Linked DNA regions of Homo sapiens. The protein of the gene in region 1 purifies or fractionates together with the protein of each later gene. This does not show direct contact. Each region holds a gene or a part of one and is shown in the gene's direction. Other genes may lie near its edges. The genes, in order: NRXN1, MYO1E, KIAA1671, ARHGAP10, MYO5B, ITPRID2 and MYO1C.

Region 1 (4,196 bases):
AGTTATAATAAACTACAAGGGTGTCATGGCTGACTGTAAAAGTGTCATATTAACTATTAGAAAATGTTAGGACTTACTTGTAGTGAGGATAACAAAAGCTCCATACAAGAAGGTTAACTCTTTGCCTTACTAATAGGACCAGGTCTACACTTGTGTTATGAGCTGAATAATGATTTATATAATACTATATTGACTTTAGACCTTAATTTTGACTTTAATTCTCTGCAGATGTCTGAGTCCTTAAAAAAGACAAGATAAAACCAAAATGCATCACCAACACACAACCAATTGATGTGCTGGCATCTTAGCTTGGCCCTGCAGAGGCAGAGAGAAAAGAAGAGGAGCTGTTGCGATTTCCACATCTAACAGCTTCTGGCTATTTCGCAACTGCTGGGTTTGAGTCCTACTGTTGCCGTGGCTGAAAAGAGAAGTAAAATCCAACTTGTGAGACCACGCACAAGGAATTAGGCTTTGGCTGCAGCGGTGCTGAAGCCCATGCTATGACAGAAGAAGCAGGCCTTTGAAGCTATCCTCGGGTTAAGAAATGGTGCCCTAAAGAGGCAAGCATCCCTTTCTCCGTTCTGCTGTAAGACACCACATCTGAAGGAGACAGACTTGAGGCATTCACAAGCATCCAAGGATACTGGCTCACTGCTGGCTTCCTGTACTTTCTTGAGAAAAGTGTTTTCTTTTTACTGACTCTCACTGCTTCCTTTTGGCCTGGTACCACTGGTGGAACCTGGCAGATAATGGGATTTGAGGAGTTAAGTATCTGTTGACACTGCAGATACTCTTAAATTAGTTAATCAGACTCAAATGGGTCAGTGCTTTCCCTTGATCTTTTGTTGAAGCCTTTTCCAGAACGTTGTCTCCAAAGTGCATCCTCCCTTTGGTCTGGAAGTTCTGTGGCTACCCTGTACCACTGGGGTCAACGTTTTCCAGTTGGAAGAGGACTACAGGGAGAGAGGGCGGGGTTATTGGAAGAAGAAGAAGAAAAAAAGAACTAGATAAAGGAGGGCACATCCCTCTCACTCCCGCCTTTCCCCTTACCTTTCTGTCTCTCGGGACCCTTATTTCTTCGTCACGGTGTCCAGGACCATTTTGACCCTGTCGGCCCCGGCACCCCCCCGCCGCACCCCAGCCCCGAGCATGGGGACGGCGCTGCTCCAGCGCGGGGGCTGTTTTCTTCTGTGCCTCTCGCTGCTGCTCCTGGGCTGCTGGGCGGAGCTGGGCAGCGGGCTGGAGTTTCCGGGCGCCGAGGGCCAATGGACGCGCTTCCCCAAGTGGAACGCCTGCTGCGAGAGCGAGATGAGCTTCCAGCTCAAGACTCGCAGCGCCCGCGGCCTCGTGCTCTACTTCGACGACGAGGGCTTCTGCGACTTCCTGGAGCTGATTCTGACGCGCGGCGGCCGCCTGCAGCTCAGCTTCTCCATCTTCTGCGCTGAGCCTGCGACGCTCCTGGCCGACACGCCGGTTAACGACGGCGCCTGGCACAGCGTGCGCATCCGCCGCCAGTTCCGCAACACCACGCTCTTCATCGACCAGGTGGAGGCCAAGTGGGTGGAGGTCAAGTCCAAGCGCAGGGACATGACGGTGTTCAGCGGCCTTTTCGTCGGGGGGCTGCCCCCGGAACTGCGCGCCGCGGCGCTCAAGCTCACCCTGGCCTCGGTGAGGGAGCGGGAGCCCTTCAAGGGGTGGATTCGTGACGTGAGGGTCAACTCCTCGCAGGTCCTGCCCGTGGACAGCGGCGAGGTGAAGCTGGACGATGAGCCGCCCAACAGCGGCGGGGGAAGCCCGTGCGAGGCGGGCGAGGAGGGCGAGGGCGGGGTGTGCCTCAACGGAGGTGTGTGCTCCGTGGTGGACGACCAGGCCGTGTGCGACTGCTCGCGAACCGGCTTCCGCGGCAAGGACTGCAGCCAAGGTAAGGCCCGACGCCCGACCCACGGGGGCCGGGGCCTGGGCGGGGCTCGGGGAGGAGGGGACCGGGCTGGTGCATGGGGTCTTCCTAATCTTGGCAAACGTGTGGCAGTTCGCTTCGAGGGAAGGACCTTGTTTCTGGGGGACTCTCTACCTTACCACCTCCACAGCTTCTCCCTTGACATCCTCCTAAGGATTGGCAGCCCCCATATCCAAGTTTGAGTTCCTTCTGGAGACCTTTCTACCAACACTACTCCCTTCCAAGTGGCAAATACAATGGCCTCTTCTTATTCCTCGGGTTCTTTGGCAGGTTGGGCCCTATATTGGGCCGCGGCCCACCTATATGACCACTGTACTTGTCTCTACCACTTCTAAATCTGTAACACACAGACTTTGCCCTTAAGATGCAAACAAGCATCTAGAAGATTGGGCATGTGTTTGATGAGAAATGAAGCACAGGAGAGGTATACCACGGCCGTGGTTGAGAATCCCCACGTGGTTCTGGTCACTCGTGGTAAAGGACGAGAAAGACAGGGTTCACGGGCAGTGCTCTGCCTTTTGCAGATAGAGCGGTAAAAACCTGCTTTTCGTTGTGGAAAAAGGGAAAGAGAGGATGTGAAGCGTTTCTTCATTAGCAGGAGGCTTTTTGGAATAATGTTGGTTTCCACTGTTATATCCAAGTCCAACATTTGTGAAATTTAAGTAAAATTTTGTCATTTATGCGGTTTCTTGAAGTGTGAGGTCAGCTGACGTTTAAAAATGTTAGAGATTAAATAAGATTTCTTAATTAACAAATGCCTTATAAAGAGAAATAAAGTAGTAGAGAAATTTAGATGTTGCTGGATTGGGAAGCTTCTGCAGACTAATAAACAGGGATGCATGTAAGGGATTGCAAGAGATTTTCTAAGGATATTCGGCTAATGACATTTATCTGGGTAGTGGAGGCCAAGTTGTAATTTCTGTGGTTCTTGGGGCTTAAAACAGTGTGGCATTAAACTACAAAAGTCATACCTAAGTTCTCTTTTCTCCTCTTTAGAAATAAAATTCGGTCTTCAGTGTGTTTTGCCGGTGCTGTTACATGACAATGACCAAGGAAAATACTGTTGTATAAATACAGCAAAGCCTCTAACAGAAAGTGAGTGAGTGGTGTGAAAAAGACGAATCAGTGGCTAAGTAGGAGATGTCAGGATTTAAAGTAGATAGCTTATGGGTCAAAGCAAGGCAATCAACACATGGATAAATGGCATTTGTGGCTGAAATGGGTGAAAAAAGGTGAATTATTAAATCTGATTTCGAAAGCTATAGGGACAAAAGCTCTGTGTGGCTGCGTTTTATTGTATAATGTCTTTGATTTTTGCTGACAGTGCTAAGGGGAACTAGCCTTTGTAAATCTTATTAGAGTTGGCAGTTCTCTCTCACTTGACTTTAAGAGAAATGAAGACTTGATAAGATTTGTAATTGTTTAAACAGCAAGGAGAGTTAGTTAGGAAGAAAAAAAACTGGTCTTTAGGAGACTTCTGTAGCCTTCACAGGATTAGGAGGAGGGGAAGAAAGAAAGGGCTATTTTGTTGCGCTCTGTCTTCATGTGGGTTTTTGTTTTTCATTATATTTTGGCTTAGGTAATTATAGAAAACTGTGTATTCCATGGCCTATACAGCACTTCAGCTTTAACAGTACATTTCTATGGTTATGAGAGCAGGCTTTACAGTTATGTTTTACAAAATAAAAAAGATAGTTTTTTTCTTCTAGCAAATCTACTTGTGAATCATGAATAATATGCTAGGTAGATATGATAATTTCCATACTGTAATTTGAAGTTGCATACTTTTGCACTGATTAATAGAAACAAATTTTAAAATGAACATTATTTTATGGGAAAATTGTCTTAAGTATCCTAATGCCACTTTAAAATACAGAGAAGGCAATTTAATGAAGGACCCATGAAATATAGCTTCCTTCCTTAAATTAGGAAACAAATATGACACAATGACAGCTTGTACTGTGTGGGAGGGTGTTTTAAATGAAAATTTTTATTTTTCTATGCATTTTTAATGTAGGGATTCAGAGATCATGCATAATCAGGAACAGTTAAGAGTGGAAAAAGTAATTTGTTAAAGAGAAGCAGAATTAGATGTATCTGAAATGCATTTTATTTTGCAAATGGATAGCTCTTTCTATAAGATAAAGAATTTGGAATTACCAAGATGCATAATTGAACAGTGTAGTGCCTGGTACATAGGATAATTCAACTCAGAATAGCAAATCCATTAGGATTCTTC
Region 2 (4,165 bases), on another chromosome or scaffold:
ATAATGAACTGGTGGGAGGGAAGTCTCTGGAGTAATGAGGGTGGGTGGATAGATGGGATGGGAGTAGACAGGAGTGAGGTCTGAGGCATAATAAGGTTGTGAATGGGGAGCAAATCTCATGGCAGCATTTTTTATAATAGTGAAAACTGGAACCATCCCAAGTGACCATCCACAGTGCCCTGGAGAAGTAAACTGTGACACACTCACTCGCGCAGTGGTGTAGTATCAGGCAGCAAGGGTGAAGGAACGATAGCTGCAGGCATCAGCAGGGCACGTCATCCAGTTGTTGAGCATGTGACCGTGGAATATGATTCCTTTCATACAGTTGACAGTCGGACCACAAATATTGGCTAGGGGTATTTACATGTGTGGCAAACTGTAGAGATGAGCCAGAGAATGGTTAATACAAACTGTAAGGTGGTGGTAATCTGGGGGGAATGCAGTGAAGGAGAAATGCCTACAGGCTTCTGTGGCACCTGCAAAAGTTCCATTTCGAAACTTGAGGAAGGAGGGACAGATACCTGAATGTTCCTGATTTAAATGTATGGGTATACTTTTGACACTTTTTTATGGATATGTGTCTCCCACATTTCCTTCTATGCTGGGGACACAGTGACAACAGCAGCTAAGGTTTTTAAGAGCTATGTGCATTTGCAACAACCTTGTCAGAAAAGTTACTTTTATTCCTCAAGTTTAAAGACTGCACCCTGGGCCACATGTCTTCTAAGGATGGAGCTGGATTTGAACTTGAACAGGCCAGTGCCGGCCGCCATGCTCCAAACCACCGTTCGGTGCTGCTGCCCCCTGTTGGGGCCCAGTCTCATCTGCTCCACTCTCTCCACAGGGTCAGGAGACAAACAACCAGTCGGCCTCCCCCAGCAGGGGGCAGACCCAAGCCCCAGCCCAAGCCCAAGCCTCAGGTGCCACAGTGCAAGGCTTTGTATGCCTATGACGCTCAGGACACAGACGAACTCAGCTTTAATGCCAATGACATTATTGATATTATCAAAGAAGGTAAGTGTGTGGCTGGTTGGCTGGGACAGCCTCCCAAAGAGCATGCAGTCACATTGCTGTAAGATCTAGTGTGAAAATGAAAAGAATTTATGGGCTCCTCAAACTGCAATTTGTAGAGGCAGGTCAGGCCTCAGGCTCAGTCTGATCAAGACACCAGCTTTTTTAATGCTTCTTTCAGCTCTGCCCCCTTATTTATATTCCCTCCCTTGTCAAGCTGTTTTTCTTCATGGTAGCAAAACGGCAGCAGCAATTCCAGGCCAACATATCAAACCATGTCTGAAATGTGCATCATCTCTGAAACTTCTGTTCTTAGTCATTGGACAAAAGTCCTGACTTTTATTCTGATCAGACCAAATTAGCCATGTGTCCATCCCTGAACCAACTTCAGTAGCAAGACAAAGGCTGTACCCTGAGAGGATGAGACCTGGTAGGGGCTGTCCCCAGAAACGGGGAGGTCTGTCCCACCCACACTTCCTGGCTTCTTCATAATGAAAGTGGATGGAGTGGAAGCCAGGAAGACAACCTTGAATATCCATTATTAAAGCAGTCCATGGGCTTGGCTGAGTGCTTTATTAATTTGGTAGATATCTTACTTTTTTCAACAAACTTTTTGATTTAAAGAACAAAGGGAAAACAACATGGATGGAGCCAAATCACTTGAGCCCATGGGAGCGGAGTGTGTGTGGCTGGGGCAGAACAGACTTTCTCATCTTCACTTCCACCACCTCTCTCTCCCTGCAGATCCTTCTGGCTGGTGGACGGGTCGACTACGAGGCAAGCAGGGCCTGTTCCCCAACAACTATGTGACCAAGATCTGAGGTGCCCGTGACTCTGACACATGGGGCAGAGGAGCTCCAGGCACAGACCAGGGGAGGGGATATTTAGGGGCTCCCCTTACAATCCACAATGAGCAATTGCTTCTCCAAGGCCTGGAGCTATTCTGGTACCTTCCCCATGGAGGACACTGAAAAGGCTGGGTTGGGGACAGGGAGTATCACTCCATAAGTGATCCTAAAAGGTAGCCTCTTCATAGGAACCCAGGAGGACAAAACCACCATGCATTAAGATTTATTTATTGTATTTAAACCTGGTGAGAGGACAAGTGAGGTCTGCTCAGACCTTGTAGGCTTCTATCAAAACAGCACCCTGCTTGCTCACCAGGCCTAGAGAATGGCTGTAGGTGGCCGCTGACAAGTGCCTTTAGTTGAAGAGCACATTTCTTTCATCTCTCTTGTCCATACCTGATAGACACATTCCTCTCTGCCACCTTCCTTCAGGGAGGACCCGCCCTCTGCAGACTGGGCTTAGCGTGAGCAGGCACTTCCCATGTACGTGCCAAGGGTAAGCTGGCCTGCTGAGCCCAGGGCGACAGAGGGGCACTGGTTTACACTTTGCCGGGACCATCAGGGCCGCCAAGCAGGTCAGGGGCTGGGGGCTGGGGGCTGGGCTGCTGGCTTTGCTTTCTCTGGGTCTTCAATTAGAATGTGGCTGGCCCATATTGGTTTGTGTTTAAATGCTGTACTTACTACAAGAAGGATCTTTTTTCAAGCTGTACATTTATAAAAACAGATCATATACTGTATATATAAAAATCTTGAGATGGTAGAAACATGTATGAATGTACTAAGTAGTATTCCACTGTACTCATTCATAAGGTAGGTTTTCTTACAAAACTCACACCAGGTACTTAAAGATGTGCTCTGCTTTTTTCCAACTACGGAGTGTCACTGCTTTCTAGGTCAGTCCCTGCAGACTCTTCTCAACTCTTTCCCTATAGGAAACTTACTCCGCGTCCTGCCCCCACCTCCTAAATAAATAAAGGAATCGGCGAACACCTTCTTCTTTTATGACATTTGTTATGGGTTGAATTGTGTGCCTCCAAAGAAGATGTTGGAGTCCCAGCCACCAGTACCTCACAATATGACCTTATTTGGAAATAGAGTCTTTATGGAGCAAACAAACAAAACTAATTAAAATGAAGTCATTAGAGTGGGTCTTAATCCAATATAATGGTGTCCTGATGAAAAGGGGAAATTTGGACACAGAGACCAACATGCCAGAGGAAAGACCATGTGAAAAGGCAGGGAGAAGACAGCCATTCACAAGCCCTGGACAGAGGCCTGGAACAGATTCTCCCTCACACCCTCACAAGGAACCAGCCCTGCCCACCTTGGTCTTGGACTTCCAACCTCCAGAACTGTGAGGCAATACATTTCGCTGTTTAAGCCACTCGGTTTGTGGTAGTTTGTTACGGCAGCCCTAACAAACTAAAACAATGTTTTCTTGCCATAATAGTGAAAAGCTGGAATCAGTGTAATGCCCATCAATAATGGAATGGTTGTAAGTAGAGACTGCCATTTCTCTACCTTTCCTCCTCTGGGTGCCATAGCCATTCTTAAGCTACTGGTAACTTAGAGTTTGAGCAGCATACACCTTTGAGGCTTTCAGGATCCTCAAGTCCATGGGAAAAAATTATCAGGGCTTACGTATAAGGGAAAAAAATTGATCTAGATTTGAAACGAAGATACATTTAATTCTGCTGTGTTTTACTTCAAGAACAGGGAGCAAACTCCATTCTGTAACAGTAACGAATAATGTTAAAAGGCTACTTCAGTTCCATGTTGCGACCAGAGAGGAAAGTAGAGCCATGATGCGGTGAGTTGAGGAAAGGTAATCCTGTTGACACTAGTGGTCTCTAAAGTACTTTCACATTCATGGACTCCCCGCAGTGGGAGGAAGATACCACCAGAACTGGGACAGAGGAGCATGCTGGAGTCCCCACAGCCACCAGCACTCAGGCTGCGTTCTCAGGGCAGGAACACCAGGACCATCTTCCCTTGTTATCATAAGCCCCTGGCTGGCTGGGACAAGCCTTTGTTTTTCCTCCTGATTGATTGATTGGCATTTTACACTTGTGTGTAACTGGGAACCATCGGGCTCTAGGTCACAAAACAGGGACTGAGTTAAACCCCCACGAGTAACACCCTCATCCATGGAAATCACAGACCAAGCCCTTAGCACCTGCATCGTGTGCCCAGCCAGTGCCAGGCTCAAGGAGATGCCCAACAAATGGTGCTGAAATAGGTAAGTGACCCACAGGGGAAGGAGACTTAGATCTGCGTAGAGATGCTGAAATGCTGACACTATTAAG
Region 3 (4,196 bases), on another chromosome or scaffold:
CGTATCAAAAAAAAAAAAAAAAAAGAAAAGAAAAGAAAAAAAATTAGCCTGGCAGTGTGTCAGGCTGTGTCCCATCTAATTCAGAGGCTGAGACAGGAGCATTGCTTGAGCTCAGGAGTTCGATGCTGCAGTGAGCTTTGATTGCACCACTGCACTTTAGCCTGAGACAGAGTGAGTCCTTGTCTCAAATAAATAAATACATAAATACATAAAAATTTAAAAAATTAAAATTAAAAATAAAAGGAAGCTGGTCAAGCACAGTGACTCAAACCTGTAATCTCAGCACTTTGGGAGTCAGAGGTGGGCGGATCACTTGAGGGCAGGAGTTTGAGACCAGCATGGCCAACATGGTGAAACCCCATCTCTACTAAAAAAAAATAAAAATAAAATTAAAAAAAATTAGCTAGGCGTGATGGCAGTTGCCTGTAATCCCAGCTATTCAGGAGGCTGAGGCATGAGAATCACTTGAACCTGGGAGGTGGAGTTTGCAGTGAGCTAGATGGTGCCACTGCACTCCAGCCTGGGCAACAGAGTGAGACTCTGTCTCAAAAAGTAAAAATAAAAGGAAGCTAACAAACAATCGAGGCACATACACACACACACACATATATATATTTTTTCCTTCAATGCAATGAATATTTTATTGAGCATCTTATGTGGGCAAGGCACTCTATTTGTGAAAAATTCAAAAGATCACCTGCCCTTAGGAATCCTCTGGTCAACTGTACGAGAAGAAGGAAGGGGGCAAGGTGAGACAAGTAAGCAAATAATTATGGACTTGACTTCTGGGCAGAAGCTATCACAGCTACATTTGTTAATTGCTCAGTTAAGTGACCTTTGAAATGTTCTATAGCCATGTCTCCATTAAGAATATGAAATACGGCCGGGCGCGGTGGCTCACGCCTGTAATCCCAGCACTTTGGGACCCCGAGGGAGGTGGATCATTTGAGGTCAGGAGTTCGAAACCAGCCTGGCCAACATGGTGAAACCCCGTCTCTACTAAAAATACAAAAATTAGCCAGGTGTGGTGGCGCCTGTGGTCCCAGCTACTCGTGGGGCTGAGGCGGGAGGATCACTTGTACCTGGGAGGGAGATTGCAGTGAATCGAGATCATACCACTGCACTGCAGCCTGGCGACAGAGTGAGACTCCGTCTCAAATAAATAAATAAATAAATAAATAAATAAATAAATAAAATAAAACAAATAATTTCACACGTGAATTAAAAATAGATTTAGGTACTTTCCCATTTCAGAATGTGTTGATTTACCTCATTATTTTTAAAAGCTGAATAAGGCCAGCTGTGGTGGCTCGGGCCTGTAATCCCAGCACTTTAGGCGGCCGGGCGGATCACTTGAGGTCAGGGGTTCAAGACCAGCCTGGTCAACATGGTGAAACCCCATCTCTACTAAAAATACAAAAATTAGCCAGGCATGGTGGCACGCGCCTGTAATCCCAGCTACTCGGGAGGCTGAGGCAGGAGAATTGCTTGAACCCAGGGAGGCGAGTGTTGCAGTGAGCTGAGATCGCGCCACTGCACTTTAGCCTGGGTGACAGGGCAAGACTCCGTCTCAAAAAAAAAAAAAAAAAAGAAAAAACTGAATAATTTCCAGTGCATGAGGTGCTATGAGCTTATTTAACCGATCCCCTGTTGATGGACATTGAGTTGTTTTTCAGGTTCTTTTTTTTTTTTTTTTTTTTTTGCTATGACCGAGTGCCGCAGTTAACATCCCTGTTGACATGTCTTTGCACATTTGTTGTAGTAGGCTGGAGGACAGATTTCCAGGATGTGGAACTTTAGGGAGGAAGGGTGTTTAGAACGTTGAAATGACCTGCCCAATTTCCCAGCAGAGTGGCTATACCTTTCACACTCTTACCACAGCTGTGCGAGAGACAGCCTCTTTGTATATTTCAGAGAGAAGGAACAGTGTTTGGCTGTCTCTTGTCTTTGGCCATAGGACATGGCCTCTGGCCTGAGGGAAGGTGAGAGTTCTTATAAGTGACAACATTTTGTTGCCCTTGGGGTTCTTTTTGTTGTTGTTGTTTTTGTTTTGAGACAGGGTCTTGCTCTTTCATCCAGGCTGGAATGCAGTGGTGCGATCTCAGTTCACTGCAGTCTCAACCTCCTGGGCTCAGGTGGTCCTCCCACCTCAGCCTCCCAAGTAGCTGGGATTACAGGCATGCACCACCACGCCTGGCTAATTTTTGTAGAGACGAGATTTTGCCACATTACCCAGGCTAGTTTCAAACTCCTCAAGCGATCCTGCTGCCTCAGCCTCCCAAAGTGGTAGGATTGCAGATGTGAGCCACCACACCCAGCCTGGCCCTTGGGTTTTAATACAAACTGCTGGAGACTCTGTCTCGGAAGATATTTGCCCATGTACACACGAGTCTTTCTGGACATACGTGGTCCCTGTATTAGTCAAGCTTTTCTGTGATCATACTGTGTAACAAACATCTCCTACATCGCAGTGGCCTTTAACAGCAAACATTTGTTTCATGCTCACGAGTCAGCAGGTAGCTTGGCTGACCTTAGCTAGGCTTCACCAGCAAGGCTGGCCCTAGGCTTTGGATTGGGTTCAGGTCTGGCTCGTGAATCTTCATCCAGATTCACAGGCTGAAGGGTGGCAGCCAGCCAGGGCGTGTTCTTCTGTGGTGGACAACAGAAGCCTCCGTTCTGAACTGAGAAGCTGTCACTTCTGCTCTCATGCTATAGGCTGAAGCAAGTCACGTGGCAAGCCTGACATCAATGAGTTGAAGTCTACTCCTCTCATGGAGGCTGAAGAAACATTTGCTGAGCAATAATAGAACCTGCCACAATTATGTTTCTGATGGGGTAGGACGGGTCCTTGCAGGAGTAGAGGGTCTGCCTGGAGGGCATGGGTAAGAATCATGGCTCATGATTTGTGTGGGACAAGTGGTCGCAGAGCAGAGGCTCTGGGTAAGGAGACCTGGTTTGAGTTTATAACCAGAGACAGGCAGTTCACCAACTGAGTCTCAGTTTCCTTATCTGGAAAATGGGAATAATTTGTCTTCTCTGGCGAGCTGCTGGGAAGCTCAGAGATATTACTGCATAAGAAGGTGCTTTATACCTGTGAGGCGAGATGGGAAATGAGGGATGATTGTCTTGATGATGATTTTTGTGCTGGAGCTGGCTTACAATCCCCTGAGCAGTGACACCTGTAGCCAGTAGAGTGAGAGAACGCAGCGACGCCAAGGTGAGACTGGGAGGGATAGGCCTGGGTTTGAATCCCAGCTGTGCTCGTTGTGGGCCACGTGACTTTTGATCAGCCTCATCACATCCCTCAGCCTCAGTTTGCCTGTCTGTAAAAGGGTCACAGTGTGCTTGTGCCCATTAACGAGGACTGTGAAATGCTTGGCATGAGGTAGATGATAACCAGATGGTGGCTGTGAGGATTGGCATGGAGCTGAGGGGGTCCTGATAGGGGCAGAATGAGGAATTCCGCCACCCATTCCCTTGGGAATATTGCAGGGAACCTGGAGCCGGACTGCTTGGATTCAAATCCCAGCTCCACCGCTTACCAGCTGTGTGGCCTTATGCAAGGCAGTTAACCACTCTGGGCCTCAGTTTTCTCATCTGTAAGCTGGGAGTAATAAGAGAGCTGGCCTCATGAGGTTGACAAGCATTAAATGTGTTAACACATATGGCACTTGCTAATGAATTTACATGAGCCTTAGCTAGTATCGTTAGGATTACTAGTATTATTATTAGTCTACGGAGGCCCAGAGAGGTTGCTTCCCTTCCTGGGAGCCACCAGGGCCTTGGGGAAAAGAATGATGAGAAGCAGATGCTTTTTGGGGCCCTGCATCTGAGCCGGTGCGCTTTCCCCCTTCTGCTGTAGCTGATACGGGTCAGTCCAGAGCAGGCCTTTGAGGATGGCCAAAGTGCCTTTACCAGCCACACAGCCCTCCTGAGTCCTGAAGCAGCCCTGACCCAGCCAGAAAAGAGTCACGGGGAGCTCTGATCTAAGAAGTATTCACATGGCGCCACTATGAATGCACTCAGCAGGCTTCTGGGAGCCCAGGTTTATGAGTATCCGCAGGGGTCACTGAGCTAGCTGCACGGTTAGAGGCCACTCACTCTCTCCTTCAGTTGGGCATCTCTCCATAAAAATGTGTCATGCATTGGGAGGCCGAGGCGGGCGGATCACCTGAGGTCAGGAGTTCGAGACCAGC
Region 4 (4,196 bases), on another chromosome or scaffold:
TCAGCCTCCCGAGTAGCTGGGACTACAGGCGCGTGCCACCACGCCTGGCTAAATTTTTTGTATTTTAGTAGAGACAGGGTTTCACAACGTTGGCCAGGATGGTCTCCATCTCCTGACTTCGTGATCCACCCGCCTTGGCCTCCCAAAGTGCTAGGATTACAGGCGTGAGCCACTGCGCCTGGCCCATACTTCATTTTTAAAGGCTAGCTTTCAATCATCAGTAAGAGCAGCTGCTTACTAGGATGCTGTTCATGGACTTAAAGCACTAGGTGGATTTTTAGACTAGATGCTTCTTAGCACTATGATTCTATAATTCTATCATTTTGAGAGGCCAGAATTAAATCCCAAACCATCTCATATATGGGATGGAACTTTTGAAACCCTTGTGAGCTCTTAATACCTAGAAACAAACAAAAAATAGAGCTTACAATTAAGAGATTTTCAGATAGGACATAACTGTTGATTTTTCTAGCAAACTATTTAAACAGTATGTCTTTAAATCACTTCTGTCTTGCTAAATCTTAGAGGTTTGTTTCAAAGTATCTCTTATTTTCCTTCTTCCTCTTTTTTTTTTTTTTTTTTTTGAGTCGGAGTCTCGCTCTGTTGCCCAGGCTGGAGCGCAGTGGCGCGATCTCGGCTCACTGCAAGCTCTGCCTCTTGGGTTCACACCATTCTCCTGCCTCAGCCTCCCGAGTAGCTAAGACTATAGGCGCCTGCCACTATGCCTGGCTAATTTTTTTTAGTAGAGATGGAGTTTCACCGTGTTAGCCAGGATGGTCTCGATTTCCTGACCTTGTGATCCACCCGCCTCGACCTCCCAAAGTGCTGGGATTACAGGCGTGAGCCACCGTGCCCGGCCTCCCCTCTTCTTCTTAGAACTAGCAGTATTGCTGATTTGTTTCATTGATTCAGCTGTATTCGTTGCTGCGTTTTAGACATTTCCTCTTTAGTAATGTGTTTATAGCTCTGCAAATCTGCTTATTTATGAGGGAAAATATAAAGGGCTGTTTTTTTGTTGAAGGGCCTGCTCCGTTTGGTTCCAGTTGGGTCAAACACTATTGCATGTATCGAAAAGCAGCAAAGAAGTTCAACATGATCCCATTTGAGCACAGATCTGGAGGGAAACTTGTAAGTATTTGATTCAACATAGAATAGATTATAATCTGTCAGAGGTAGTGTTTGAGGGTGTCATTTTAATGGTTTATATTTTAATGGTTTATATTCATGGATGGTAAATAAATTGTTAGTATTAAAATCTTTGTTTTGTTTTTGAGTGAAATGGGCCAGAAGACAGAACAATATATATGTTTTCTGAATTACATGCATGGGTTTTAAACCACTAGATTTTTTTTTTTTTAAGTTCTGGGATACATGTGCACAACGTGCAGGTTTGTTACATAGGTATGCATGTGTCATGGTGATTTGCTGCACCCATCAACCCATCATCTACATTAGATATTTCTCCTAATGCTATCCCTCCCCTAGCCCCCAGCCCCCTCACAGACCCCAGTGTGTGATGTTCCCCTCCCTGTGTCCATGTGTTCTCATTGTCAGCTCCCACTTAAGAGTGAGAATATGTGGTTTTAACCACTAGATATTTTTTAGGTGAACAATAGAATCCTTTTTATGCCACTGTTTGGAAGATAAAGGTAACACTGACAGCAAGCTTTCATGACTCAGTGGTTCCTCAGCATTTATACAATGGAACTGACTTGCTGTTCATAGCCTGAAAACAAAGAAGAGTGATCTACGATAAATTTTACTGTTGTTCTGTTCATCTTACAAAGTTCTCACATAGGTATTCACCATTTAGTTAACTGTTCCCCCTGAAACTAAAACAGCAAAGCATGATAGTAAGAAAAGAGCAAGAAGACCTCACAGAGTTGGCTGTGTAGGAAAGGTGATCTTTATATGTATTTTAAATGGAATCTGCAGCTTATTACAATAATTAATGGCCTAGAGACAAAGCTTCCCACCAATGTTGAACATAATTGATAACACATTTTAAGAAAGCAGCTTAATTCATTGCTTACTGGGTGAATGGGTATGGTTTTGCTTAGGTGAATAAAAAAAGAAAAACCTATGTTCACTTCTATTTACTTGTACTATGCCTTTCCCTGAAAAATATTTAAAGCAGCTTTTAATAAAAACACATTTATATAATAATGAAACAGACATGGAAAATTAGTCATGGTGAGGAGAAGGAAGTGAGGAGATGGCTCTTGAAGCATCAGGTTTGAGACTGAGTTTCCTGTCAGAGCCAGTTCAAGTCCTAAGATATTTCTGCTTAGTGATATCTTTCTGTTTTAGCCTCCAAATAATAATGATAAATATGTTATGGAATATAACTGTGAGATTTTGAATATTTGTGTATCTTAATGTTTGTTACTTAGAGATCTTCACGTTCTGGAAAATGTTAAAATGTTCAATAAGTGTGTACTCACACTTTATATAGTTGTTCTTTTACTGAGCACTTGTATTTCTGCATTGCAAATTAAGTAAAGATAAATTCAGGGTGATTCACATAGGGAAGAGAGAAATTGCATAGATTAAATGGTTCTAGCTTTAGATTATGAAAATATTTAATCTAGGGTTATCGGTGTACTTTTAGGCTGACGTGTATGGAATTGCAATTTTTATAGGCCAAAAATAGTCACATATTTTTTGTGACATGTGGTAAGAAATAAATTTTTACACTAAAAAAAAGAGTACAATAAGAGACTAACAGTATTCCAGTATCTTAAAACTGTACTGTTAATCTACCTTTGAAAATTAACATTTGGCCAGGGACACTGGCTCACGCCTGTAATCCCAGCACTTTGGGAGGCCGAGGTGGGCAGATCACTTGAGGTCAGGAGTTTGAGACTGGCCTGGCCAACATGGTGAAATCCTGTCTCTACTAAAAATACAAAAATTAGCCAGTCATGGTGATGCACACCTGTAATCCCAGCTATTTGGGTGGCTGAGTCACAGAGTTGCTTGAACCCAGGATTCGGAGTTTGCAGTGAGCTGAGATTGCACCACTGCACTCCAGCCTGGGCAACAGAGCAAGACTGTCAAAAAAAAAAAAAAGTAACATTGGTATTGTCTGGCATAACATTACCATCATCAGTAAGGTCTAGAAAATCTTAAGAATCAAGAGAATGGCTGGGCGCGGTGGCTCACGCCTGTAATCCCAGCACTTTGGGAGGCTGAGGCGGGTGGATCATCTGAGGTCAGGAGATTGACACCAGCCTGGCCAACATGGTGAAACCCTGTTTCTACTGAAAATACAAAAATCATCCAGGTGTGGTGGTGCATGCCTGTAATCCCAGCTACTCTGGAGGCTGAGGCAGGAGAATCACTTGAACCTGGGAGATGGAGGTTGCAGTGAGCCAAGATCCTGCCACTGCACTCCAGCCTGGGTGAAAGAGCGAGGCTCCCTTCTCAAAAGAATCAGGAGAATGACAAAAATATTAATATTTTAGATTCTAAATAGCATTTAAATAAGCCAGTTTGAAAGAGGATAGGGTAAAGAGAAGGACTTAAGATCTTGAACCTTGCTCCCCTGCTCTCCAGTATAGAATGGCTGAGTGTGTATATACTTATCCTGTAGGTTTTGAGAATGTTCAAAATGATTATTTGCAGGGGGACGGAGAGGTGTTCTTTTTGAAAGAATGTACCAAGAGGCATACTGACTCCATTGACAGAAGGTTTTGTTTTGACATAGAAGCTGCTGATCGGTAAGTTATTGGAATTATTGGACATGGTGAAAGAGTCGTTTTAAAAAAATGATTTAAAAAAATAGAGGTTAGTTGCAACTGTGATTTCTGTGGCCTGGGAGAATGTTATCTTGCTATATTTCCAGGCTGTGTGTTCATTATAAGCTGTTTAGTCTTGATCACCGGGTTTAGCTATGGGGTGATAGTTTCATCTTGATTTAGTTAGGAGTCATTCTAACCAGGGTTGTCACTTAAAAAATAACCTTGGAGGCCAGGTGCAGTGGCTCACACCTGTAATCCCAGCACTTTGGGAGGCCGAGGTGGGCAGATTATGAGGTCAGGAGTTCAAGACCATCCAGGCCAAAATGGTGAAACTCTGTCTCTACTAAAAAGACAAAAAAATTAGCCAGGCGTGGTGGCATACACCTGTAGTCCCAGCTACATGGGAGGCTGAGGCAGGAGAACCATTTGAACCCAGGAGGCGGAGGCTGCAGT
Region 5 (4,196 bases), on another chromosome or scaffold:
GTAGTGCAGCCACTGCAGAAACAGGCTGGCCTGCAGGGAGGGTGAGGCCTGTCCACACATGGATGAGGGCCAGGCAGTGGGGGAGGTGAGATTCTTGAGGGAGATGAACCCTCAGTGAGAGGGATTTCTACCTGCTAGCAGGCCTGTGCCCCGAGTATTATTGCTCTTAGAGACCATCTTTAGTTCTTACACATTACTGCTTCCAGGATACAAGCCATTCTCAAAAGCTCTGAGTCCAAACCAATTCTGGAGTCCACTGAGCTGCTGGTTGCTGCTCAGAATTCCAGAGCCAGCCTTTAAGTCTGGTTTCCTGCCCTCAGTAGCTGCATTGCCCTCCACAGGCAATTTTATCCACTCACGGCTCTAAAACATATCTGCATGCTCGTGGCTCTCAGATTTGTGTCTCCAGCCTTGATCCTCTTTCGTGAGCACCATCCAGCTGGAATCTTCGGCCAGTCTAGGCCAATTTAGGGCTGACACAAATGTCACTTCCTTAGGAAAGCCTTCCCTAATTCTGAGCTAAAATAGCATGTCCCAGCCCCAGCAGTCACTTTCTATTCAACCTCATTTCTTTTTTTTTTTTTTTCTTTTGGTCGTACCTCATACCACTCTGTCATTTAAATAATGATAACGCTTACTTGACAGAATGAGCTGCGTGAAGTCATCAGCTTTAATGCAGCAGCTGTCTCATAGCTGTTTGGGTTGCTGAGCAGGCTTTTTCACCTAGTTAGGGTTTGTAGCCATTTTCTAGAGAGTTAAAGCCATGATGCATCTGACATCTAGATAAATGGGACACCAAACTATTTTGCTGTTATGCTCTTCAGCATCCCTTGTGTTGGATAACTGGCAGTTCAGAAACAGAGCCAGCTAGCCCAGGCGGTTAGACGAGAGCCCGGGGCTGTTGGGGCAGAGCCTCATCTGTCACTCAGCTTTGCATTCATTCTTCAGCCATGGAAGGCAGCCTGTCCTTTATGTGTGTCCCTGTATGTGCACCACTGATCAGGAGACCAAGGTGGGGGTTCTGTGCACCATCCCTGGTGGTAGAGGAACACTCACACAGCCTCTCAGCAATGGGTCTCAACCCCGTGACTGGCAAGTGCCCTGCCCAGCCTCAGGGCTGCTCAGGAACACTAGGTAAGGGTAGGAAATGTGGGGAAAGAGGTACCGAGGAAGCATTTCACCAGATGGGAGCCACTTAGAGCTGAGGATGTCCTTTTCTTTTCACAGAAGCACAATGATGACTTTGAGATGACGTCATTCTGGTTATCCAACACCTGCCGCCTTCTTCACTGTCTGAAGCAGTACAGCGGGGATGAGGTGAGTGGGGAGCCAGGCACCCAGGAGGCATTCCTGCTTCATCCAAATGTGGTTGAGAAGTGCTTTGTATACCCTCAGAGGTCAGTGGGGTCTTTGGAGCACCCTTGGGGACCTCAGACCGTGGGCACACCTTATCATGCCTCGTGGCTGGAAGCAGCAATAAGGCCAGCCACAGGAGACCTGCCTCTAGGAGGCCTTGATGAGCCCAAGGGGCCCCAAAAAGCACTCCTGGGTTATGTAAGTAGAGTCTGCATAACCCATGATCAATAGAGGCCCTGGGAGTCTCCATGAAACTCTTGTAACCTGACATTTCTGTATCAGCTCTAGAAGCCCCACTGCAGTGGATACTGGCAGGGAGCTCAGTTGCCTAGTGGGTCACCCTGTCTCCTAAGCCAACTGATTAATCTGTCCATTTCAAGATAGACAAAGATGGCCACAAGAACAGAGGCACACCATAATCAGAACTACGTGTGTGCAAACTGACCTGGAGGCCCAGCTCCATGCATTTATCCAAATTGGATTCCTTGACCTGAGGCCCAACTACTAACCCCATCACTTCACAATCCACACCGGACCTGTAAGGCCCAGCTTTTTCTGGAACTCACATTCCTAGCTTTGGTCCCTGAAAGAACTTCTCCCATGCTCTGCACTCTGCCCAATGACCTAGTAATATGTGGCTTGTTTCCATTCTAGTTTCTCTGGTGAGAATCCCAGCTTGTTCCAGATATGCCCGCTCACAGGTTCCTGTAGGTCTTCCAACTTTTCTTCCCCTTCCTTTCACATATCTCACCATCCACCCTTCCCAAGGTCAAGACATAGTGTAAACCAAAATAGTGCGACCATTTTTAAAGCTTTATTCCATCTTTTGTGCCAGAACCAATTTTGACAGACTCTTCTCCCTGGGTTAGTAAAAGGATATGCCCTTCCTTTCAGTCTTACCTTCTTTGCAGTTGGCTTGACGCCATCTCTCTCCTAAGAACCAGCACTTCATTTGATGGCCTGCTTTTATTATAAAAGAGATGGGCCAAAGGTTAAAGAAATAGCCATTTCAAACCCCATGACTTCTGTTACAAAATCATAATATCCAAGCATTTACTTGAAGCATAGAACTACATGTAATGTTATTTCATTGAGGTCCATCACTTTACCCAATGTTATACACATTCTAAATGGGAGGTTATATAAGGCTAGGGCAGGACCTAGAACTCCATTACATTAGGTTGTGGTTACATGTGCTCATATTCTCTGGGTCAAGAGCTGAACCACAGCATGACCAGATCCGTGTAGTCCAAATAACAAGGAAGAATGATTGACTCTATCTTCATCATTACAATTATCCCCTTTTCTGCCTGCTTTTTTTCATATTAAGATGGCTTTGTATTTGACACAGTACAACAGGCCTTGCTGAAGATGGTTGCCCTTTTGGGAGCACTAATCTTTTTGGCAGATACTGGTTTCCCTAGGCCTGAATGAAAAGGACATTGGTCACATGAGCCCTTCTGATATCAGCAGTTCCCTTAACTTACATGTGATTTCATCTGATTAATACAGAAAGCTAAGAGGACACAGTGCGGTAGCTATGAAATCACTTTAGTTCATCTATTAATTCTGATAACCAGTGATAGAATCTGTATAAAATTTCTCCTCATACAAGCGTATAATCTGGCCCATGGCCACACTCCTTTAGAGGCTGCACATCATCTAACATTTTAGGGGGACCTGATATATTGAGGAAAGCGCTGGATGAAGGGAAAAAGCAGGGATCCCTTTCTCTGGACCTGGTACCAACCTAGGTTTTGCTACCGTAGGGAAATCACTTCGCCTCAGGGATTTGGACTGAGCGATTCAGGCTTTCTCTCTCATGTTGAGTTTTTCTACATCCTTCAAGTTCAAGGGTCATCAATGAGGCCTCAAAGAACTGACAGGCTTTTGTAAAACATCATCTACATAGGGAGGGCCTGAGTAGGCCCCCTGCCCACCAAATAGATGACTAAAGTTACCAGAGCCCTGGAAGTTGTGCTGGGCCCAGCAGACCAGAGAACTCAGTAGTGCACGCCTCTCCCTCTGCAGGGCTTCATGACTCAGAACACTGCAAAGCAGAATGAACACTGTCTTAAGAATTTTGACCTCACCGAATACCGTCAGGTGCTGAGTGACCTTTCCATTCAGATCTACCAGCAGCTCATTAAAATTGCCGAGGGCGTGTTACAGCCGATGATAGGTAAGCTGGCAGCAGGAGAGCTACATCACTCATCATGGTGTCTGAAATGAGGGGAAGGCGTGGTCAGCACCCTCTGCCTTTCGGGAACCAGATATCTTAGCCATGACCTCCAGAAAGCCAGAACCTTCCAGTGAAGGCAGAACTGAGGTGTGCACATCATGCTTAAAAAGCTGTGAAAGTATTTGACACAGTGCAAGAGGCATAGATGACTTTCCCTTTATCTCTTTTTCTGTAATATGTTGTATTTTTTCCCAAATTTTAATACATAATAAATGTAAACTCAAAAGGTACAAATGCATATACAGTGAAAAAGCATAACCCTCTTAACCTATTATGAACTTGATTCATGGAAAAAAGCAGGAGTGTTCATGCGAAAGGACACAGCAGTCGGCACGATGCATCAGTATTTATTAGACACTTGCTTTGAACCAAGCAGTGTACTTGGGCACTGAACATGAAATCAGAATTGAGAAATGAGAGCAGTTACATTTTCAATCGGAAGAAAAATTATGTGTAGATGCATTACTCACTGTGCTCTGCAAAGGCTGGGAAGGAAAGTGTACCTGGACCTATTCATAATGCTTTCCCCAGGTTCTTACAACACAAGTAGGTTATGAGTGAATCCCAAGAAGGACCAATCTAGAAATACATTACTTGA
Region 6 (4,196 bases), about 130 Mb from region 1:
AGACAGCATTTTACCCACTTGATAAGTTCTCAAATAGTCTTTGTTTCTTAGTGCCGTCCATATCCTGAATAAAGATACCGTGTTTTCTTTCCTTAAAGGGAGTCTTTATTTTGATAACCATTTGTGGGGGGACTAAGTAAAAACTGCTTGAATTAACATTTAAGAAATGGTAGAGATTTTGATAGAATTTGGAAGGGAGCAACTATAAAAGTAAGATATTTGTTTTCGAAGGAGGATTCCTGTTACTCTGCTTATCTACCATTTTCTGTTAGTGCATAGACCAGTAGAGACATCTGTGGACAGAGTAATACAATGTTTACATCCAAGAAAGTAGCCATCAGGGAAGGATGACTTTTTAAAGACATACATTAGAATTTTATTAAAATATATGCAAAAAATAGATTAAAGCTTTTATTAATATATTTATGGTAATTGCTTGTGATTCTTTTACGTTTCAAAAGCACTAAGTTTTAAAGAGCTGCCATTGTTAGTATACTTGTAGAAAGTTTTAACCTTTAATTGGCATTTCAGTAACATTTCCTTGAAACTGATATTTTCATGATTGATCCCATGTCTCGTGAATTTTTAACAGCTATAAATTGTTACTGAAGAAAGGTGTGCATCACAAAACAGACCCTCCAATATAAAACAATGTGTTTCTTACTATAACTTGGTTTCAGAGAATTAAAAGTGTTTATTTTTGTATTTGAAAAAAAGATATTTCTCTCATCTGTATTTGAACTACAAGAATGAAAAAATTTTAGCAATGGCTAATCTTAATGTTGATTCTCAAGTCAACTTTTTAGTAATTTTCAAAGTTAAATGAAGAATATATATATTTTTTAGCTTAAAAACAAAGCGAATCTCAAGCTTCTACATTTACATAAAAAGATAGTTGTTGGGGCAAGGGGGAGGCATTAGGTGATGCTCTGAAATGCTAGTGATAGATTAACAGATGAGGTTTAAGGAAACTATTGGGCCTCATTTCCAACTACTCTTCACTTTTTAATTTTATTAAGGTTAAGTTACCTATGACTGAAGATTTGTTTTCTTCTAATTCTGTTTTCTTTTTTGATGGAAGGGGTTGAGAAGAACAGACATTTTCTTAATGCTTATTGTCAGTCATTCTCTCTTTTTTGCAAAGAAAAATGCCAATTCAAATCATTTGTCATTGCCATTTTTGCCCCTAATTGTTAGCACATCAGACATGATTAAATCATTCCTGCTGAACTGACCTGATGGCAGGTATTTGCTTAGTTAGTGAATATTACTTATGTAATCTACTTGCATTCCTTGTGTGTTTTTGGAGGAGAGTTTAACTGTGATTAGAAGCTTATTGAGCTGTAACTCTTTAAGTAAGGCTGTGTAATGACAACTTTCCAAATAGCCTTTCACAAGACTAAGGCTTATACGTTTATATGGTTTCAGTACACCTTTGGGAGCCTCACTGGATGAACAAAGCAGTAGTACACTCAAGGGTAAGAGAAGGTTGCCTTTCTAAATCTGTTCTTTATGACAGTTCTACTTCTTTGTCCTCTGGGTAAAAGTGTATATATGACTTATAAAAGTGATATTCATGTTTATAGTATATGCTATTCTGAGCTAGAAGCAAAATGGAGAAACTTTGTTATAAACCGTAAAACAGTAGGGAGTTTAAGCAAATTGCCTAGCCTTTTCACAACGTGAAACTTATATCTTTATTGTCCAGTTAGGTATTATAAAGACTAATTAAATATGAATATATAATATGCAAATATAAGGAAAATACTTATTGAGTGAACAAAAGTTTAGTCAACTTTCGTGCAGCATTTCTTTGCTTACATTTACTGAAATTGCCACACCTAAAATTTTACCACCTGTTCAAGACAGAATTCTAAAGTTCAAAGTACAACAAGCATGTGCAGGCAGTGGCAAGGCATATAAAAAAACATTTACAGTGTCAGGAAAATCCAGCTCCTGACTTAATATGAGATGGATAAGAAGAATATTTGCTCCAGGATCTGGTTTTCCATGAAACTCTTGGTATGTAGTCTGATTGAACATCTTCAAAAATATAAGTTTAAAACAGCCTATAGGTTGGCTTCTGAGAACTTTATGTTGCTGGAAAAGTGGTTTCTTTACGTTAAAGTAAAAGCTTATACCTGCTTCTTGAAGTTATATAATCAGAATAATGTCTGAGTACATTCAAGTCTGAAAGATTTTACTGTATAAGATATTTTGCTGGGTGAATTTAACTAAAACAGTGATTTTATATGAGGGTGGAGAGGAACAGAACACCAGGATGAGTTTTCAAATGTGTCTTTCAGGTGTGCTTGTGAGAAATGGAGGAAGTTTTGAAGATGATTTGTCATTGGGAGCTGAAGGTATGTTTGTTTGGAAGAACTGTATTTTTGTGTAGTTTTCAAATTTAAAAAAAATGAGAAAGCTGAATGGTTTCAGGTTTATGATCCTCAAGCTAAATTTAAAGGTCTTGAAAATGGCTCAGGCATATTTTACATTACCTTTCTTTGTTAATAATCTAGTCATAGTCTGTAGGATACATGTAGGGATGACTCTGAAAAACTATGTGAAGTGTCCATCTGTCTTTCTTGGACTAAATGCTTAAAGGAACAGTTTGTAACAAACCGTGGTAATATAACTGAGGGAAGAATTGTCCTGAAAAAGGAAGGACACTTAAATATTTATACATGGGAAAACAAAATTGAAGCTTATTTTTAGCGCAAAATAGACTTATGTCATACTTACAGCTGCAGCTTGTCTTTCTCTTTGCATTTAAGTGTCTCCTGTCTTTTCCCCATTTTCCTGATTTTTAGAAAATTAAAGGGGAAAGACAAAATAGCAGAGCTAATAGAATTTTATTAGAAATCATGCTGGTGTTTATTCCAGAAAGCATTAGATTTTAAAAAGTGTGTTGTGCTATTTAAAAGTTTTTACAAGTTATGTAATGTTTTCCAGTAGATTTATAATAAAGCTTTCTTGTACAAAAAATAAGAATTTTTAATTATTTTACTGGTGTTTTAAAAGCTATTTTATAGCTCATTGATCAAATTGCATAGATTATTCATAGCTGTATAGCTCAGTTATTAATGTGTACTTTTTTAAAAAAAACAAGGATTTTTAAAAAGTCTTTAAAGCTTACAAGTTGGTGAATAGTGAATTTATACATTGAATTTAATATTCTTGATTTTTTCCTGTTTCAAATGCATCTGTAAAGTAAATTACTTATTTAGAACCTTCTAACATTTAAAACTCTGGAATATGCAAATATATTAGTTCTTATTATTTCTGTTCATATATTTTCAAGCTCTATAAAGAGCTTAAACTTACTGATTCCCACTCAGTACAATTGAACATGTTGTCAATCCGTTATTAAAATGCACTTTGCACTTTTGATATTTGCCTTGGTAGTTTGATAATATTGAATGATTTTATTGGAAACCAGAACCTAAAAAGGAGTCTCATGAAAGAGTAAATCTATTATGTTGTTTTACTGAAAATTATTTCAAGGCTATTTCCATTCATTAAGTAAATAATTACTGAGTGCTGTGAGTTAGGCACCTTTCTGGTGGATGTACAAAGAAACACAAAATTGTCATAACTTTGTAGATCAGAAATGAAAAGCAATTCATGTGTGCTGAAATAGATGTGTTTATAATTAATTTTATTCTTTGTATTTGTCTATAAATTTAACTTTAAACATTAACACTTACCTGTTTAGAACTTTAAGCTAAAGTTCTATCATAAAGTTGAAAGGCAATTTTTAAAAGAAAGTTTATATTGAAATAAGTAGAAATTTTCATGTTATATGTGTGAAAAATCAGTTATAACCTTAAAAAAAATTCACATTAGAAACTGACATATACTATTGCCACACTTAATGTTAAATCATGTTTTCCTCTTAAGATATTATTCATTAATAGCTTTTAAATTTAATAATTAGTACCACATATATGGTACATATCTTCCTCATTACTTATTTCTAACCTGTTAAAGAAATTTAACTGGTTCCCTATACGTTTTTTTATTTTAAGCACTCAAGTGAGAGTAGTTAGTTTCATGTTGCCACAACACAAAAACACCCTTCAAAAGCTCCTGGCCCTGTTCTTATCTATCTGTATATCACTTTTAATAATGCAGATTTAATGGACCAAGATAAGTGTTTAATATATTTGGCATTTAATTCTAATATTGTAGGT
Region 7 (4,196 bases), on another chromosome or scaffold:
GCACCCTCACCGTGTCCTCGCCTGCCCTTGGCAGCTCCTCAGCGTGGAAGGCTCGACGCTGCGAGAAGCCCTGACACACAGGAAGATCATCGCCAAGGGGGAGGAGGTGAGGCCGGGCCCTTGCCCTCGGGTGTGGAGGGGCAGCTGTTCCAAGGCAGCCCCTACTCCCATCACTCCCCTTCGCCTGGTTCCCTCAGCAATGCTGGAGGGATGGAAGGAAGGCTGCTCAGAGAAGCAGAGTGAGAGCCGAGCGCCGTGGCTCACGCCTGTAACCCCAGCACTTGGGGAGGCTGAGGTGGGCAGGTCACCTGAGGTCAGGAGTTCGAGACCATCTTGGCCAACATGGTGAAACCCCATCTACTAAGAATACAAAAATTAGCCGGGCATGGTGGCGGGCGCCTGTAATCCCAGCTACTCGGGAGGCTGAGGCAGGAGAATCGCTTGAACCCGGGAGGTGGAGGTTGCAGTGAGCCGAGATCACGGCAACAGAGCTAGACTCTGTCTCAAAAAAAAGAAGCAGCACAGTGAGCTGGCCAGGGTCACATAGGAAGAGAGTAACAGTCCGGCTAGAACCAGACTCCCACCTCGGGAAGGAGGCCTCCTGTCCCTCTACCACCTTCCCTCTGGGGTGGCCACCTGTCCTCCCTGAGGTCCCACTACCAGCACCCCTCCCCATACTGCAGGCTTGCTGGAGCTGGGAGTGCAGAGTGGTGGCGGCTTCCTGGTCTGCCTGAGCCTGGGAGCAGGTGGGATGCACAGGCTCTGTGGCATTCATCTCCTTGTCTCACGCTGCGTCCACAGCTCCTGAGCCCGCTGAACCTGGAGCAGGCCGCGTACGCACGAGACGCCCTCGCCAAGGCTGTGTACAGCCGCACTTTTACCTGGCTCGTCGGGAAGATCAACAGGTCGCTGGCCTCCAAGGTGAGGGCTCGGTCCACACTGCTCCCAAGGCAGAAGGGAGGGCCGTCGGCGAGGCGGGGGGTGCTGCAGGGTGGGGCTGGCACGCGCAGGGGGCCCACGCCTTCGGTTGAATGACTGCCCTAGGACGTGGAGAGCCCCAGCTGGCGGAGCACCACGGTTCTCGGGCTCCTGGATATTTATGGCTTTGAAGTGTTTCAGCATAACAGGTCGGTGCCATCTTTCCCCCGTCTCTCCTCCCGGTCTCCTGTCCTGCTCCCTCTCTTCTGTCCTCCAGCCTCTCATTCCTGCCCTGTGACTCCCCAGCCAGCCGGGGACTGTCTCTGTGTTTCTCACCTCCTGTGCTCAGGGGCGTCGTCCAGCTTTTCCCCTCTCCTGGTCCTGTGTCCCCACTGAGCCACTGTGGGCTCTTCTCCTTCCTTACAGCTTTGAGCAGTTCTGCATCAATTACTGCAACGAGAAGCTGCAGCAGCTCTTCATCGAGCTCACGCTCAAGTCGGAGCAGGAGGAGTACGAGGCAGAGGGCATCGCGGTGTGTGCTAGCCTGGGGGCACTCTCCGTGGGCCACGGGGAGCCTGGGTATCGGGGCCCCTGGGAGAGGGTGCCAGGACCCCACGGTGATCCCTTCCTTCCCTTCTGCCCCTCAGTGGGAGCCCGTCCAGTATTTCAACAACAAAATCATCTGTGATCTGGTGGAGGAGAAGTTTAAGGGCATCATCTCGATTTTGGTGAGTCCTCTGCGCCTCCAAGGCCTGGTGCTGGAGGCTGGGTGGGAGGATGTCCCCCTTCTCCGTTCTCTCCAGGCTGGTCCACGGAGGGCCAGAGTTTGGGGCTGAGTAGAGACAGGGCAGAGCTGTGAATGGAGGATGGAGGGAGGTGCCGCCCCAGTTGGAAGCTCTCTGTGGAGACTCCCTGTGATCTGCCCCTCCCCTGTGTCTGTGCCTCCCAGCACGGTGACCCCAATCCTCTGTGCGCTCTGACCTGTCCCCCATACGTCCTTCCCCCTGTGCCACACCCCCCAGGATGAGGAGTGTCTGCGCCCCGGGGAGGCCACAGACCTGACCTTCCTGGAGAAGCTGGAGGATACTGTCAAGCACCATCCACACTTCCTGACGTGAGTGGGGCTGCGGGGCTGCTGGGGGCAAGGGCTCACTTGCAGCAGAGCCTGCGGAGTGCAGGAGTCCCTCCGCCATCACAAAACACCAGCCACAAGGAGGTGACCAGGGACGGTGCTGAGTTAAGGACCCCTCACATGTGTCCAGAAACTAAGAAGCTTAGCCAGGCATGCTGACACGCCTGGAGTCCCATCTATGCAGAAGGCTGGGGCAAGAGCATCACTTGAGCCCTGGAGTTTTGAGGTTGCAGTGAGCTAGGATCAACCCACTGCACTCCAGCCTGGGTGACAAGAGCGAGACTCCGTCTCAAAAAAAAAAAAAAAGGGAAAAAAATAAATAATGAATTTTTTAAAAAAGAGAAAGAAGGCCAGGTGCAGTGGCTCACGCCTGTAATCCTAGCACTTTGGGAGGCTGAGGCGGGTGGATCACCTTAGGTTAGGAGTTCAAAACGAGCCTGGGCAACATGGTGAAACCCAGTCTCTACTAAAAATGCAAAAATTCGCTGGGTGTGGTGGCAGGTGCCTATAATCCCAGCTACTCGGGAGGCTGAGGCGGGAGAATCGCTCGAACCCGGGAGGTGCAGGTTGCAGTGAGCCGAGATCGCACCACTGCCCTCCAGCCTGAGCGACAGAGTGAGACTTCAACCCCAAAAAAAAAAACAAAAAACAAGACACTAGTAGCCTGGCTTCCTCCTTCTTCTTGTTTGAGAATGAAACTTGCTAAGATTTTTCATCTTCCTTGTTTGGAAATTGATTTTTATTGAAGGAATCCTCTGAAGTGGGGAGAGGTAGAAACAGGAACAAGCGCCTCTGTCCAGCGCGGTCTGATGCATGCTGTGCATGTCGTCGCTTCACCTGCAGCTGCTCCTTGAGGGGTTCTTGGTGTTTTCTCACTGAGACTCCAAGAGGCGAAGTCATTTCCCCAAAATTAGCTCTCATCTGGGTTGCCGAGCTGGGGTCAGTGCCAGGGCTGTTGAATGCCAAAGCCATGAGTATTTTTTGCATAATAATATATTGAAAATTTGTTTCTGGATGGGCGTGGTGGCTCACGCCTGTCATCCCGACACTGTGGGAGGCCTAGGTGGGCAGAGATCACCTGAGGTCAGGAATTCAAGACCAGCCTGGCCAACATGGTGAAACCCTATCTCTATTAAAACTACAAAAATTAGTCAGGCGTGGTAGTGGGCACCTATAATTCCAGCTACTTGGGAGCTAGGAGAATTGCTTGAACCTGGGGGGCGGAGCTTGCAGTGAGCTGAGATGGTGCCACTGCACTCCAGCCTGGATGACAGAGTGAGACTCCGTCTCAAAAAAAAAAAAAAGACTTGTTTCTAGGAGTCTCTCTGAATCTATTCGGGTTTAGGGGCTGCCTGATTCATTAAATAATAAATACTAAAAACTTGTTCCTGATTATAAAAATAATATTGCTTATTACAGCAAAGTTGGAATGTGCGCAAAAGCCACCTGTGATCCCGTCGCCCAAAGGCCATGGCTGTTAACTGTGTGAGGCATTTCCCTCCTGCCTTTTTCTATGCATTTTTTTTCGTAGTCGAGAACTTGTGTATAAGGCTCAGGGTAAATATCCTGCACATTTTCCCGTATCATCAAACAACATTTTCCTCAGAACACTTCCTGGAGCGGTTCTGACCCACAGATACTCCCCTCTCTCACCCAGCCCTTCGGGGCCCCTGGCCAGCCTCCCAGGTTTCTGCTGGAATCACAAGGCTGCCACAAACATCTCCGTGCCTTCAATCTTTGTCCGTGTCTCTGGTTAGCTGCTTGAAATAGTTCTTAAAAGCAAATGGGTGAAAGGGTATAAACACGCCTAAGACTTAAGTGCTCTCTTGGGGCAGCAGATTCCATTCTGAAAAGTAGTGCGCAGCTCACCACCCCTTCTGAGCAGAGCCCGCAGCGGCCGAAGCAACGAGAGTTTCCCTCCCTGCAGCGTACCCTGGCCGTCAGGAGGCCCAGGTCCCGGTCCTGGCACTGTGTGGCCCTGGCCAAGGCCATCTACCTCTCTGAGCCTCCATGGTCCGCTCTGATCAGGGAGGCCACTGGCCCTGCCTGGCCTGCCTCAGTGACCCAGCCCTGGGGGTGCACCTGCTCTTTTTTTTTTGGAGTGTAGTGGCACCATCTCGGCTCACTGCAACCTCTGCCTCCCAGG

The links.
Region 2: the proteins of NRXN1 (region 1) and MYO1E purify together in Homo sapiens (affinity purification with mass spectrometry, with the first as the bait; one large-scale study listed by BioGRID). This does not show direct contact.
Region 3: the proteins of NRXN1 (region 1) and KIAA1671 purify together in Homo sapiens (affinity purification with mass spectrometry, with the first as the bait; one large-scale study listed by BioGRID). This does not show direct contact.
Region 4: the proteins of NRXN1 (region 1) and ARHGAP10 purify together in Homo sapiens (affinity purification with mass spectrometry, with the first as the bait; one large-scale study listed by BioGRID). This does not show direct contact.
Region 5: the proteins of NRXN1 (region 1) and MYO5B purify together in Homo sapiens (affinity purification with mass spectrometry, with the first as the bait; one large-scale study listed by BioGRID). This does not show direct contact.
Region 6: the proteins of NRXN1 (region 1) and ITPRID2 purify together in Homo sapiens (affinity purification with mass spectrometry, with the first as the bait; one large-scale study listed by BioGRID). This does not show direct contact.
Region 7: the proteins of NRXN1 (region 1) and MYO1C purify together in Homo sapiens (affinity purification with mass spectrometry, with the first as the bait; one large-scale study listed by BioGRID). This does not show direct contact.

The regions. Positions count from the first base shown.
Region 1 is NC_000002.12:51,025,227-51,029,422, reverse strand, and holds part of NRXN1 (neurexin-1 isoform alpha4 precursor), read left to right. Parts: intron 1-228; 5' UTR 229-1,149; coding exon 1,150-1,921; intron 1,922-2,953; coding exon of another isoform or gene 2,954-3,052; intron 3,053-4,196.
Region 2 is NC_000015.10:59,135,047-59,139,211, reverse strand, and holds part of MYO1E (unconventional myosin-Ie), read left to right. Parts: intron 1-844; coding exon 845-1,014; intron 1,015-1,755; coding exon 1,756-1,832; 3' UTR 1,833-4,165. UniProt on the Homo sapiens protein: Actin-based motor molecule with ATPase activity. Unconventional myosins serve in intracellular movements. Their highly divergent tails bind to membranous compartments, which are then moved relative to actin filaments.
Region 3 is NC_000022.11:24,958,975-24,963,170, forward strand, and holds part of KIAA1671 (uncharacterized protein KIAA1671), read left to right. Parts: intron 1-4,196.
Region 4 is NC_000004.12:147,878,211-147,882,406, forward strand, and holds part of ARHGAP10 (rho GTPase-activating protein 10), read left to right. Parts: intron 1-1,021; coding exon 1,022-1,128; intron 1,129-3,627; coding exon 3,628-3,722; intron 3,723-4,196. UniProt on the Homo sapiens protein: GTPase-activating protein that catalyzes the conversion of active GTP-bound Rho GTPases to their inactive GDP-bound form, thus suppressing various Rho GTPase-mediated cellular processes. Also converts Cdc42 to an inactive GDP-bound state.
Region 5 is NC_000018.10:49,838,486-49,842,681, reverse strand, and holds part of MYO5B (unconventional myosin-Vb), read left to right. Parts: intron 1-1,227; coding exon 1,228-1,317; intron 1,318-2,256; exon of another isoform or gene 2,257-2,319; intron 2,320-3,317; exon of another isoform or gene 3,318-3,387; coding exon 3,388-3,538; intron 3,539-4,196. UniProt on the Homo sapiens protein: May be involved in vesicular trafficking via its association with the CART complex. The CART complex is necessary for efficient transferrin receptor recycling but not for EGFR degradation.
Region 6 is NC_000002.12:181,894,602-181,898,797, forward strand, and holds part of ITPRID2 (protein ITPRID2), read left to right. Parts: exon of another isoform or gene 1-97; intron 98-1,428; coding exon 1,429-1,478; intron 1,479-1,950; exon of another isoform or gene 1,951-2,022; intron 2,023-2,306; coding exon 2,307-2,363; intron 2,364-4,196.
Region 7 is NC_000017.11:1,475,341-1,479,536, reverse strand, and holds part of MYO1C (unconventional myosin-Ic), read left to right. Parts: intron 1-34; coding exon 35-106; intron 107-801; coding exon 802-921; intron 922-1,044; coding exon 1,045-1,127; intron 1,128-1,344; coding exon 1,345-1,450; intron 1,451-1,565; coding exon 1,566-1,646; intron 1,647-1,940; coding exon 1,941-2,032; intron 2,033-4,196.